Linked DNA regions of Homo sapiens: all the other regions are reported to be linked to region 2. Evidence: microRNA targets listed by miRTarBase, many of them from high-throughput screens and not tested one by one. Region 2 holds a microRNA gene; each other region holds the end of a gene's coding sequence.

Region 1 (4,131 bases), not on the chromosome of region 2:
TAGCATTTCCATAAGTCCCTACATATGCATCAGGTATTGCCTGAGATGATTTGTTTCTGATTTCCTCTGAATCCACTTGCACCTTTTGAGTACCTCAGAAGAGATAATCAGGAAGTTCAAATCTGGCAAGCATGCAGCTCACTTGGCCTGGCCACATGACCTAGTCTAGTCTTGGAAATTATCACCTGTCCTATCCTTCACTATCTGGCATAATGGGGTGGGCTGCCATCCTCTTGCATTTACTTTAAGTTAGCTTCCCGTAGCCTGAAAAGGCGAGCATTAATTGAACACTTACCATGGTCAAACGTGTCAAATTTTGGCTTGTTTCCAGACTATACAGGCCACCCCATAGTTTCTATATAATGTTAAATGTTTGCATTTCAGTCTTTTAGGAAAGCATTCATGATTGCTTTTTTTCTTCTCCAAACAGAAAGCGTTCTGCAAAGCCTGAAACTGTAATTGACTCTTTACTGCAGTAAATGTTACAGACTTAAAGTCACAATAAAAATTAGTGATATTCTCATGCCTGGACAAAATCTTTAATTAAAACAGTGAAGACTTCTCTATAATTTCAATTAATGGAAGTTGTAGATCAATGAATAAGACTGGAAATAATAATTTGCTTAAGAACTTTTAGTCTACATATATTAATATAACATTAAAATTGTACAACTGGTGATTGTTCAAATTGTTGTACTACTACTCTTCAATTGTACTGTGCAGGGAAGTTGGGGGAACAGTTCATACTATAGAGAGTTACAGTTTAGATGTATGTGTAAATCGATTAGCTATTTATCCAACTACTGTATATTTAGGTAACTAGAATTTCAAAATAGAAAAAAAAAAACTGTGTCCTGTTTTGCACATAGAAAGAAGCAGATCAGATTGTCCTATGTTGCGCTGTTATATATGAATGTTTGGACTGTACATCTAAAGAATGATTCCGTCCTAACACCCACCCAGCCTGTTTGAACACATTCTAATTGTCTAACATTTGTTGCATTTTAAGTATGAGATGACTGATCTTATGAATGTTTTGTAGAAAATGTTATAATTTAACAGTCTTTGCGAGTATACATGTTTTTTAACAAGTTGAAAATGTTTCATCTGAACCTTTCCTAACTTTTTTTTGCCAGTTTGAGTTCAAATCAAATACACCTTAAGTTCTGGTTTCATGTTCTCTTGAAACATTGAATTGTACGTAAATATAAAGGATCTACTGTTGCGGAAAATTAAGAAGCTAAATACTGCTCAGTTATCTTTGCCTGCGTGTATATTTTTAAAAATTCACTCTGAAGTGTTATGGATGCTTTTCTTTGAGTTCTAAATTTTGGTGGGAATTACTTTATGTCTCCCAGTTAAGAAGAGTCTCCATTTTCCAGAAAATACAGCTAAGCAAGAAAAATATCTTTTAAATACTTTGCCTTTAAAACACTTTTTTATTTTGTTTTTCTATTTTAAAAATAAAATATTATTTTCTGAATTTCTTCTATTGGGTAATCCAGTTAGACCATATTCCTCTACAAATAAAAACTATGTTGATTTCATAGTAAAGTAAGTTGTAATAGAGATAATTATTTTTTTCTGTTGTTAGCTGCTTATGAAACTTTTATTGTATTTTTTTAAAGTTATGCTACTCCTGGCCGGGCATGGTGGCTCACGCCTGTAATCCCAGCACTTTGGGAGGCCGAGGCACGTGGATCACTTGATGTCAGGAGTTCGAGACCAGCCTGGCTAACATGGTGAAACCCTGTCTCCAGTACAAATACAATAATTAGCTGGGTGTGGTGGCGCACACCTGTAATCCCAGCTACTTGGGAGGCTGAGGCAGGAGAATCACTTGAACCTGGGAGGCGGAGGTTGCAGTGAGCTGAGATGGCATCACTGCACTCCAGCCTGGGTGACAGGGTGACACTCCACCTCAAAAAATAAAAATAAAATAAAAATAAAGTTATGCTACTCCTAAACCACTTAATATATGTTTTGTGGTTTTCAAAATTATGTAATCAGCCCTGAAACACATTGGTTGAAAATATTTTGAGACTTTATAAGTTAGTATTTATTAAATTAATATTATTTTAATAAGTTTTGTTAAATCCTAGTTTAAATGACAAAGCTGTGTATAGAGTAGGGGTGAGTGAAGGTGGAGTACTCTTGAGGTGGCGATAAAAATGTACCCATAAATTTAAAGTCCATTCTGTAATTGGAATACTGAATGTCCTGTGTGTGGTGAACATTTTCTAGGTGATTAGAATTGCATTTCACTGGCTGCATTTGTTTGTGGTATGTAAGATAGCTAGAAATTTATTACTTAACTCTGTGGGGCATTGTTTAGATACTGTGAAGAGTTGAGGTAAATATGTGTCTTGTAAAAGCTTTGTGTGATCAGAATATTTTGGTAATTATAAAATGTTTTTGATGATACACATTTAACTCTGTTAGTAATTACTCTAAAGAAATCTTAATTTTACCAGTTTAAAAAAAACGCTTCTTTTTAAAAGTTCATGTTTCTAACCTTTAACAATTCAGTTAATAGGAAAGGAGTAACTTTTAAATCAAGCTTTAAAACATGGAAATTTAAGCCAGTATGTTAGATATTTTTTCTATCCCACCCTACCATGATAATAAAAATAAATCTATAAAAAGTCAAAATAAAAAGCCGATCTATAAAAAGTCAATTGAGAAGTTCTAAAAGCAGGCTACTATAGCAGGGGTGTTTGTTTTTTGTTTGGAGACGGAGTCTGGCTCTATTACCTAGGCTGGAGTGCAGTGGGACAATCTCGGCTCACTGTAACCTCTGTCTCTTCAGCCTCCTGAGTTGCTGGAACTACAGCTGTATGCCATCATGCTCGGCTAATTTTTGTATTTTTTTGTAGAGATGGGGTTTTGCCATGTTGCCCGGGCCTGTCTTGAACTCCTAGAGCTTAAGTGATCCACCCGCCTCAGGCTCCCGAAGTGCTGGGATTACAGGCATGATTATAGGCCTGAGCCACCACACCCCGCCTACTATAGCAGTTTTTTAAAAAAAGCATTATGTTAAAACTGATTATACCAGATGGACATTAAATATCCATCTCAGAAATACCAAAATTTGATACATAAGCCTGGCCTGAATATCTTTTTTTTTTTTTTGAGACGGAGTCTTACTCTGTCGCCCAGGCTGGAGTGCAGTGGCGCGATCTCGGCTCACTGCAACCTCTGCCTCCTGGGTTCAAGGGATTCTCCTGCCTCAGCCTCTTGAGTAGCTGGGATTACAGGTTTGCGCCACCACACCCAGCTAATTTTTGTATTTTTTTTTTAGTAGAGACCGGGTTTCACCATGTTGGCCAGGCTGGTCTCACCTGACTTTGTGATCCGCCCGCCTCAGCCTCCCAAAGTGCTGGGATTACAGGTGTGAGCCACCACGCCTGGCCTCAAGCCTGGTCTGAATATCTATATGCAAATATGGGACACTGACTTCAGAGCTATTCATTTAGCTCCAGTCATAGCAATTCTGTAGTTTCCTCACATTTACTGTGTCTTTGTCCACAAATGAAATATGTTGTAAGGTCAGTGTTAATTTCGTGAGACGATATAGATGAACACACTTGCTCATTTTTTGAAATAAATATGCAGATTTAAAATGAGTGGCACATATATATAAATAGGTTATTGAATGGGTATTCTCTTTTCCCTTTAATTTAAAAAGTGATATTTATTTATTAAAAGGAGCATTGGTAGAATTATTGGTTTATAGTATCTTCTTTAATAATCCTTACAATTACATATACTAATAGGATGTTAAAATTATCATCGTGTTTCCTATTTGTGTTTAGATTCTTATAAAGCATGAGATGAGTAATCAAGGGAAGGGTCGCATCTCCATGTTTGCCCCATGAATAGAATCCATTTGACAAGCCATTTCATTTCCTTTCTGGAGAAAGGGAGTTGTTTTTTTTTTCTTTTTACAGCAAAAATTTAAGGTTTTATTGGGGGAGGGGGTGGTGCTACTTCCTCTGTAACATGTTTTTAAAACTATGATTATGGTTTTTGGTTGTTTTTTGTTTTGTTTGTTTCCTTTTAGTCTGTTTTTAATATCCTTCCCCTTAACTCTTAAGGAAAGTCTTCTTTCCTACAGGGCTGTGAATTAAG
Region 2 (4,154 bases):
ACTTTATCACGGAGCGCGGCGCCCTGGACGAGCCGCTGGCGCGCCGCTTCTTCGCGCAGGTGCTGGCCGCCGTGCGCCACTGCCACAGCTGCGGGGTCGTGCACCGCGACATTAAGGACGAAAATCTGCTTGTGGACCTGCGCTCCGGAGAGCTCAAGCTCATCGACTTCGGTTCGGGTGCGCTGCTCAAGGACACGGTCTACACCGACTTCGACGGTGAGCGCGGGCGCGGGGCAGGGAACGTTCCGGGGGCCTTGCCGGCGGGTTAACGCCTGCAGGGGCGGCACATGGAGGGGCTGATGACTGTTGGGCGGCCGCGCGCCCTGGGTCTGCTCTCGTGGGGAGCAGAGGCCCACGCGCTACCCTGGGGAGGGCTGAGCGAGGGATCAAGAGCGGGATCGTGCTGGGTGGGGGCTAGGGGCGCGCTCAATATTGCTTCCTCCATCGCGTTGGGGGGTACGGGGCCTCTTGCCCCGGTGTGGGAGGCGCGTGACATCCTTCCGGCCCGAGAGACCCCCGGCTGGGGGCGGTAGCGGAGGAGTCTCCGTGCGTGACGCAGGGCGCAGCCGGGCTGGGTCTGCGCCGGGAGCCTGGAGGCCCCCGCGGCGCGGTTGGAGTGGCGGGGCCTCCCCTGCGTGGGGGCGGGAGCTGCGTGCGTGCGGAGCGCGGGGGCGCGGCGGCAGAAATCCCCGCATTGCGGAGCTTGGGGAAGCCGGGGCTCCCCGCCCGCCCCTCCCTCCTCCCTCCCTCTCTCCCCTCCCCCCGTTCCCGCAGGCAGGCGCGCCGGGCGGTAAGGGACCCGCGCTGTCCCCCCCCCACCCAGGTAGCCTCACAGCGCATCTGTTTGTTGTGAAAGCCGAGCTCTTACTCATGTGACCTGCTCCTCCCCCGCGGCCGGCGGAGGGGGACGGCCGGCCCCTCCCCCAGCCCCCCCATCGCCTGCCGGGGTTTTTCCAGGGTGATGACGAGCAGGATTTTGAGGCCTGGCTCTGCTTCCTGTTACTGAGGCCAGGGAGTTAACCAGCAGGGACCTCGCCGTCTGTTGAGCGGCTCTGCCTCTGTGGTGGGCGTGCTAAGCCCTGTGTCCCCTTAGGCACCCGAGTGTACAGCCCCCCGGAGTGGATCCGCTACCACCGCTACCACGGGCGCTCGGCCACCGTGTGGTCGCTGGGCGTGCTTCTCTACGATATGGTGTGTGGGGACATCCCCTTCGAGCAGGACGAGGAGATCCTCCGAGGCCGCCTGCTCTTCCGGAGGAGGGTCTCTCCAGGTGCGTGGTGGCTCGAGGCGGGGGTGGGGGCCTCGCCCTGCTTGGGCCCTCCCTGACCTCTCCGCTCCGCACAGAGTGCCAGCAGCTGATCCGGTGGTGCCTGTCCCTGCGGCCCTCAGAGCGGCCGTCGCTGGATCAGATTGCGGCCCATCCCTGGATGCTGGGGGCTGACGGGGGCGTCCCGGAGAGCTGTGACCTGCGGCTGTGCACCCTCGACCCTGATGACGTGGCCAGCACCACGTCCAGCAGCGAGAGCTTGTGAGGAGCTGCACCTGACTGGGAGCTAGGGGACCACCTGCCTTGGCCAGACCTGGGACGCCCCCAGACCCTGACTTTCTCCTGCGTGGGCCGTCTCCTCCTGCGGAAGCAGTGACCTCTGACCCCTGGTGACCTTCGCTTTGAGTGCCTTTTGAACGCTGGTCCCGCGGGACTTGGTTTTCTCAAGCTCTGTCTGTCCAAAGACGCTCCGGTCGAGGTCCCGCCTGCCCTGGGTGGATACTTGAACCCCAGACGCCCCTCTGTGCTGCTGTGTCCGGAGGCGGCCTTCCCATCTGCCTGCCCACCCGGAGCTCTTTCCGCCGGCGCAGGGTCCCAAGCCCACCTCCCGCCCTCAGTCCTGCGGTGTGCGTCTGGGCACGTCCTGCACACACAATGCAAGTCCTGGCCTCCGCGCCCGCCCGCCCACGCGAGCCGTACCCGCCGCCAACTCTGTTATTTATGGTGTGACCCCCTGGAGGTGCCCTCGGCCCACCGGGGCTATTTATTGTTTAATTTATTTGTTGAGGTTATTTCCTCTGAGCAGTCTGCCTCTCCCAAGCCCCAGGGGACAGTGGGGAGGCAGGGGAGGGGGTGGCTGTGGTCCAGGGACCCCAGGCCCTGATTCCTGTGCCTGGCGTCTGTCCCGGCCCCGCCTGTCAGAAGATGAACATGTATAGTGGCTAACTTAAGGGGAGTGGGTGACCCTGACACTTCCAGGCACTGTGCCCAGGGTTTGGGTTTTAAATTATTGACTTTGTACAGTCTGCTTGTGGGCTCTGAAAGCTGGGGTGGGGCCAGAGCCTGAGCGTTTAATTTATTCAGTACCTGTGTTTGTGTGAATGCGGTGTGTGCAGGCATCGCAGATGGGGGTTCTTTCAGTTCAAAAGTGAGATGTCTGGAGATCATATTTTTTTATACAGGTATTTCAATTAAAATGTTTTTGTACATAGTGGATAATCCTGTATTTATGGGGCTGGGCATCCTGGGGGAAGAGAGGGGCTCTGAGGAAGGGCTTTGGCTGCTGGGTGACCTGACAAGTTTCCCGTGGGGCTGGTAGTTTTGCCCACGGGGGAAACGGGGGAGGCCCAGCTGGGTGCCAGCCTCCCCAGTGCCACAGGCTACTTCATGTGGCTTGTGGCCCACCGCACTACCCCGTGCTGCACCCAGGGAGAAGAGCAGCTGCCTCCTGGGGTGCCTCTGGGAGGTGGAGGCAGGGAGCCAGGCCCTGAGGATGCAGCAACCCACACTAGTCAGGAGGTCATTCCTCGGTGGTCCCAGGAGGATCTCTGCAGCCCCCACCCAGGGAGGCCTTGCCAGTGGAAATGGCCATACTTGCATCCTGGCTTGGTGGAAACAGAGACGTGCGGGGGGGTGGGGGAGGGAGTCCATGCTGCCTCAGAGGGTGGCTGGGGGTTTTGAAGGACAGGGAGGAGTTTGCCAGGCACATGGGGTGGGAGTGTGTTCCGGGCAGTGCCAAGGACGTGCAGAGGACATGAGGGTGGGGTTTGGTGGAGGGTATCGGGGTGTTCAGTCAGTTATAGTTAGACCCTGGCCTGGCGGGTGTGTGGTGAGAGAGTGGGGTATGAACCAGGTTCGGGTGTGTCAATGGGCCTGGCCACAATGTTCCTGGTGGGTAGAGGAGGCCTGGGTGGAGGGTCCCAGTGAGACTGCTCCCCCACCCCCACCCCAGGGGCCTTCTGCTCAACTGCCCACCCTGTGCTGGGCTGTGGGGTGCCCCATGTTGGCAGTGGACCTGCACCTGGGGCATCACCCAGTCTGCCAAGCGCACCTACTCGGCTCTCTGGCTCCTGGAGCCCTGTCTGCCCCCTGCCTCCCATCTGCCCCTCCGAATAAGAGTCCCTGATAAACAGCCCGGGGCAGGCAGCACCATACTGGACAGAAGACTGTCCCAGGCCCGAGGCCAGAGGCTGTGGCAGAGGCGGGAAGTTTGGGAAAGAGAAACAGGAGGAGACGAAAGTCACCCTTCCCCTGGAGAGCAGGCAGAGAGGGCTCGGGTGGGGGGCTCCCGCCTCAGGTTGTGACTGTTCAGGACATCAGTGGGTGTTTGTGGCCTCTGCTGTGGAGATCCAGGAGCACCTGGAGGGCAGCTGCTCAGTTAGGCAGGTCTCTCGGGGCCCTCATCTCACCCTACAGCCTCAGGCCAGCAGGGGAGATGAGGAGGTGCCGGGAAGGACAAGCCACCGGTTCCCATAGACCTGGCCCAACCAGCGTGCCCTGAGTCCAGTCTGGTCCAGTGAGGCTTTTCCCATTACCCCACCCCCCACTGCCAAAATGGGACCCTCGGGCAGCAGCCATTGCGGCCCACCTGCTCCTGGGCCAACTGCCATGGGCATTCCCCAGCCCCCAGCCATGGGCATCCCCAGCCCCGGCTTCAGCCAGGCAAAGGCCCTCCACGCAGATTGCTTTTGGGAAACTGAAGGCCAGAGAGGCAGGAACCTTGGGCAGATGTCAGAATAGGACTCTGGTCCTTCCCACTGCTGTGCCCCACACACTGCTGCTGAGGGCTGGCTGGGGACCCCTCTAAGGTGGCCTACAGGGTGGGGACATCTGCCAGGGCCCTGGGAATGGGTGCAGGGCGCTGGGCTGAGGCTCCCAGCGAGATAGC
Region 3 (4,154 bases), not on the chromosome of region 2:
AAGTATCAGTGGGAACACAGTGGGAAGGCCCACAGCGGGGGCAAGAGTCTTCCAGCTGTGGGCAAGGGTATCCCTGCGGCAGGTCCAGAGCACTGAGGGTGGGGCTTGGCACGACGCCATTTGCCAGGATTCCTGTGTCAGGGGTGAACCAGAAACCCAGGTGTCAAAGGAATCCCACCTTCTAGTCCTTGCTGTCCTCACAGAGTGTCTAGGGTTCACTTTCAGCCTTCCCTTCTGCTCACAATCCCCTCTCCCACGGTCTGTGTGGCCCTGCCTCCAGCCTGCTTTGTTGGAGCCCAGGCAGCCTTCTTCATTATGTCCTCCTAGGAATTAAACCTAGAGACCCCTCAACCTTTGGCATGTGATATACTTTCCCATGGTCAGATGGTCAGATCATCAAGCTGCTGCCCCACCCAAAATTGTGTCTTGCCCACCCTCTGTGTTTCTGTCCATCAGACCACCCATCACATAGGCAACCCCTGGAGAGTGACCCTGGTTTAAAGCCCGACTTTGCCAAACCGCTGTGGATGCATTAATTTGGAAAGGTCCCTGTTCACCTCAGGGCCCACTTGCAAAGCAGAGACAGTCCCCGAGACTCATTCAGCCTTTGCCTTTCTCCTGTTGGCCAGGGACAGAGAGGGCTCAACTTGACCCAGAGCTAAGCCTCTCAGGTCGTGAATGCCCAGGCGATAAATGAAATTCACCTCATCTTATGTCTATGGTGAGATTTGGCAGGGGTCTTGGGGAGACTTAGCAACCTCATTTCTCCCTGTCCTCATACAGGACAAGCCCTGCCCCTAATCCAGAGGCCAGTTGGCCCCATCTCATACTCTGTTTTGCTCACAGTATACCTGATGCCCTCCCTCCTGACCTGTGATTGGGATTGAGCTGAAGATAGTCACTGACATGATTCAAAGGATTAGCACTTGGTACAGGTAGGATGGTGGAGATGTGGTTGGGGACATGGATGGTTGAGGTGAAATGGAACAGAAGAGTGCAGGTTCTTGTCCAAGCTCCATACCCAGGAGATGACCCTTACCTCCGCTGCCACTCAAGTCCTCACATGTCCTGAGCGTCTACTATATAGCAGCCATGATAGATTCTCAGGTTACAAAAGTAATGTCCTCAAGTAAGCGCATCAATTTACTGACATACACCCAATCATAAAACAATGTGATAATTTTTCTGTGGTCAGAGTTTCTGAGCTACGAGTGGGGGTAGTTAATTCTATCCAGGAAGAATGGTGACTTCTTAGAGGAGGTGACAGTTAAACTGGACTTGGATAGCTGTCTGGAATTCGGTCAGGTAAGAAAGAAAATTCCAGGCAGAGATGAGCATGAGCAAAAAATTTGGCAGCAATGATGCACGGTGATTCAGAGATCAAAAAGTTCAGTGTGGATGCCTCTAGACATTTTCTTATCTGTGTCTGATAGATTTTGATATTTTGTATTATCATTTTCATTCATTTCAAAATACTTTCTAGTTTTCCTTGTACTTTTTAATTTGATATATAGTTATTTGGAAGCATATTATTTGATATCCAAACATTTGAGGATTTTTCCAGATAGCTTCCTGCTGTTGATTTCTAGTTTATTTCCATTGTGCTTGGACAAGATGCTTCGCATGATTTTAACCCTTTACATATGTTGAGATTTATTTATTTATTTATTTATTGAGATGGAATCTCACTCTGTCACCCAGGCTGGAGTGCAATGGCGCAATATCAGCTCACTGCAAACTCCGCCTCCTGAGTTCAAGCGATTCTCCTGTCTCAGCCTCCCGAGTAGCTGGGATTACAGGCCCATGCCACCACACCCGGCTAATTTTTGTATTTTTAGTAGAGACAGGGTTTCGCCATGTTGGCCAGGCTGGTCTCGAACTCCTGACCTCAAATGATCCACCCAACTTGGCCTCCCAAAGTGCTGGGATTACAGGAGTGAGCTATCACGCCCAGATGAGATTTATTTTATGATCCAAAAATGGCCCTTCTTGGTGAATGTCCCTGTGTATTTGAAAAGACACTCCCTGTCAACCCCTTTGCTCTGTCATTTAGCTTTGATCAGCTTTTTCTCTCTTCTGTCACTTCAGCAGAAACAATGCCCAGAAATGCCAGAGACAACAAAATAGGAATGTGTCATGGGCACACAAAGCTCTTTTTCCCTGGGTGCTGCTCTTCCCCGTGACAGAGAAATCCATGCGACACAGTGGGGAGGCCCTCCCCAAAGGGTGGCAGATATATTTTTTTCCCCTTGAATTGTAATACACCTTTCCCCAGGCCCACTCTGCCTCCCACTTCTGTTCAGCTCAGCTGTGGGCACTGACCTCCACCGGCGCTTGATCCCTGCCTGCTCCTGCCCAGACAGGAAGCCCTTCAGCAGCCGACTCGGTTACCAGGATGAGGCTAGAGGCCAGGAACTCCCAGGTGTCTATGGAGGTCCCACCTCCTTTAAATCCCTACTGTTCAGACCCAGCTTCTAAAACTGTTCTTTTGCCTCCCTTCCTACTCACCAATCCCCTTCACTATTGTCAATGGCACTGAAGTCCCAGCCTGCTTGGTTGGGGCAGTTAAGTCCTTCTCAGTCACCTTCCACCAGGGATTAAGGTGGGACCCCTTTGCCTGCAGCTCTGTGGGTGGGACCCCTTCCTATCTCAGCATATTCACTCCCTGGGTTCCTGCTGCCATCACACCACCCACCACACGAGCCCCTTCTGGACCAGTGGCCCTTATCTGACTCAAGCCATATCTTGCCAAGCCTGTTGTGACACCGATCTTGGCAAACTCACTTTTCATGTCAGGGCCCCTGCAAAACAGACACATATCTGAGTCATGGTATTCGTTTAAGCAATGAAAAGGGTAGAATCATTTCTTACATCAGAAACATTGATCCTCAGTGAGTCAGATGGAGTAGCCTATTTTTCTCATTAGAGGGAATCCTAACTTTGAACTCCACAGAGAGAGCCCCAGGAACTGTGACTTGAACCCTAGAGCTCTACTTAACTTTTCCAAATTGCTGTACTTGAAAATGTTGAGGTCTGCCTGGGTCAATTTAGAGAAGACACTATGAGGACAAAGACAGCAATGGAAGAAAGAAATGAATTCTTCATGTCAGAGCAGTGGCGGAGAAACAGGACCAAAGAGCAGAAGATGTCTGGCAATGTGTCTGGCATATAATAGTTCTCTCAGCCAGGTGTGTTGGCTCCCCCTGTAATCCCAGCGCTTTGGGAGGCCGAGGCGGGAGCATCACCTGAGGTCGGGAGTTCAAGACGAGCCTGACCAACATGGAGAAACCCCATCTCTACTAAAAATGTAGGATGTAGTTCGGCACTGTAATGTTTAGAGGGTGGTGAAAGGATTTCTTATACCACATCTTGTATGTTATCTGGGAGTAAATGCTGCAGCCACAAGCGCCACCAGCAAGTCTTCTCAGGGTGAACGGGAAAAGGGGATGGGACCTGCTGAGCTAAATCACGGTAAACGCAGACAGCAAACAAACTTTCCGTCAAAGAGCTGGATGAAACCTGGGCCGGATGGCAAGGAGACAACACCCCAGGCAGGCGTTCCAGATCTTTGACCTTGCCCCTCCTCGAGAGGAGATGATTGCTTCATCCCTCCTCTCACTGCACATTGTGCTGCCAGCCCTGCTGTGTAGTGTGGGGGCTCAAGACTAAGGCAGTGCACCATTTCTGTGGAGAGAGATGGATCAGGGAGCGGGGGCTTGGATGAGACCCATGATTCACCTCTCTTGAGTCCTTACCAGACTAAGACGTCCTCAAGGGCCAGAGACCAGCCTGCCACTCACCATTTTGCCACCAGACACAGATGAGAACAATTCCCATTAAAACTAACAGGATGAATGCCCCCAGGATGATCCATCTATCTGGTAGACTAGAAGAAGACCAGTGGATATCTGAAGCATTTACTGGTGACACTAAAAAAAAAAAAAAAAAGAAAAAAAAGCACAAGCCCTGTCACATAAAAAAAAAAAGCATAAAAATATGCTTTCCTTAGCCCCTGCTTTCCCCAGGAACACATGGTGCCCCACATAATCACTGGCTCATGTGACAGCCACTCTACCAGGCCCTGGGCCATGAAGATGAATAGGGGTTGTGCCTTGTCCTTATGGAGCTCAGATTTCTACTGAGAGAGGTAGCAA

What was found. The annotated mature microRNA hsa-miR-6821-5p reads GUGCGUGGUGGCUCGAGGCGGGG and lies in region 2 at 1,271-1,293, shown strand. An mRNA with a match to its seed (bases 2 to 7 or 8) in the 3' UTR can be bound and repressed. Matches are read on the target gene's strand: a 7mer-m8 pairs with bases 2 to 8, a 7mer-A1 pairs with bases 2 to 7 and ends in A, and an 8mer does both.
Region 1: miRTarBase lists KIF3A as a target of hsa-miR-6821-5p. The part of its 3' UTR that is shown has no 7-base or 8-base seed match.
Region 3: the mRNA of RAET1E is a reported target of hsa-miR-6821-5p. The part of its 3' UTR that is shown has no 7-base or 8-base seed match.

Annotation. Positions count from the first base shown.
Region 1 is chr5:132,692,982-132,697,112 of GRCh38, reverse strand. It overlaps KIF3A (kinesin family member 3A), which reads left to right. Exons shown (of 19, transcript NM_001300791.2): 19 at 431-4,131. The coding sequence ends at 479. Among named protein-coding and RNA genes, the nearest start is that of IL4, 21 kb to the right of the region's middle.
Region 2 is chr22:49,961,596-49,965,749 of GRCh38, forward strand. MIR6821 (microRNA 6821) reads left to right here and starts at 1,271; the gene lies at 1,271-1,344. PIM3 (Pim-3 proto-oncogene, serine/threonine kinase) reads left to right here. Exons shown (of 6, transcript NM_001001852.4): 4 at 1-216; 5 at 1,094-1,270; 6 at 1,345-2,477. The coding sequence ends at 1,532. RefSeq lists silencers at 340-389, 520-1,039 and an enhancer at 3,613-4,113.
Region 3 is chr6:149,884,739-149,888,892 of GRCh38, forward strand. RAET1E (retinoic acid early transcript 1E) reads right to left here. Exons shown (of 6, transcript NM_001394057.1): 6 at 1-3,929. The coding sequence ends at 3,760. It overlaps RAET1E-LRP11 (RAET1E-LRP11 readthrough), which reads right to left. Exons shown (of 15, transcript NR_182438.1): 5 at 3,801-3,929. The region is part of intron 1 of RAET1E-AS1 (RAET1E antisense RNA 1); the gene reads left to right. Among named protein-coding and RNA genes, the nearest start is that of RAET1E-LRP11, 9.3 kb to the right of the region's middle.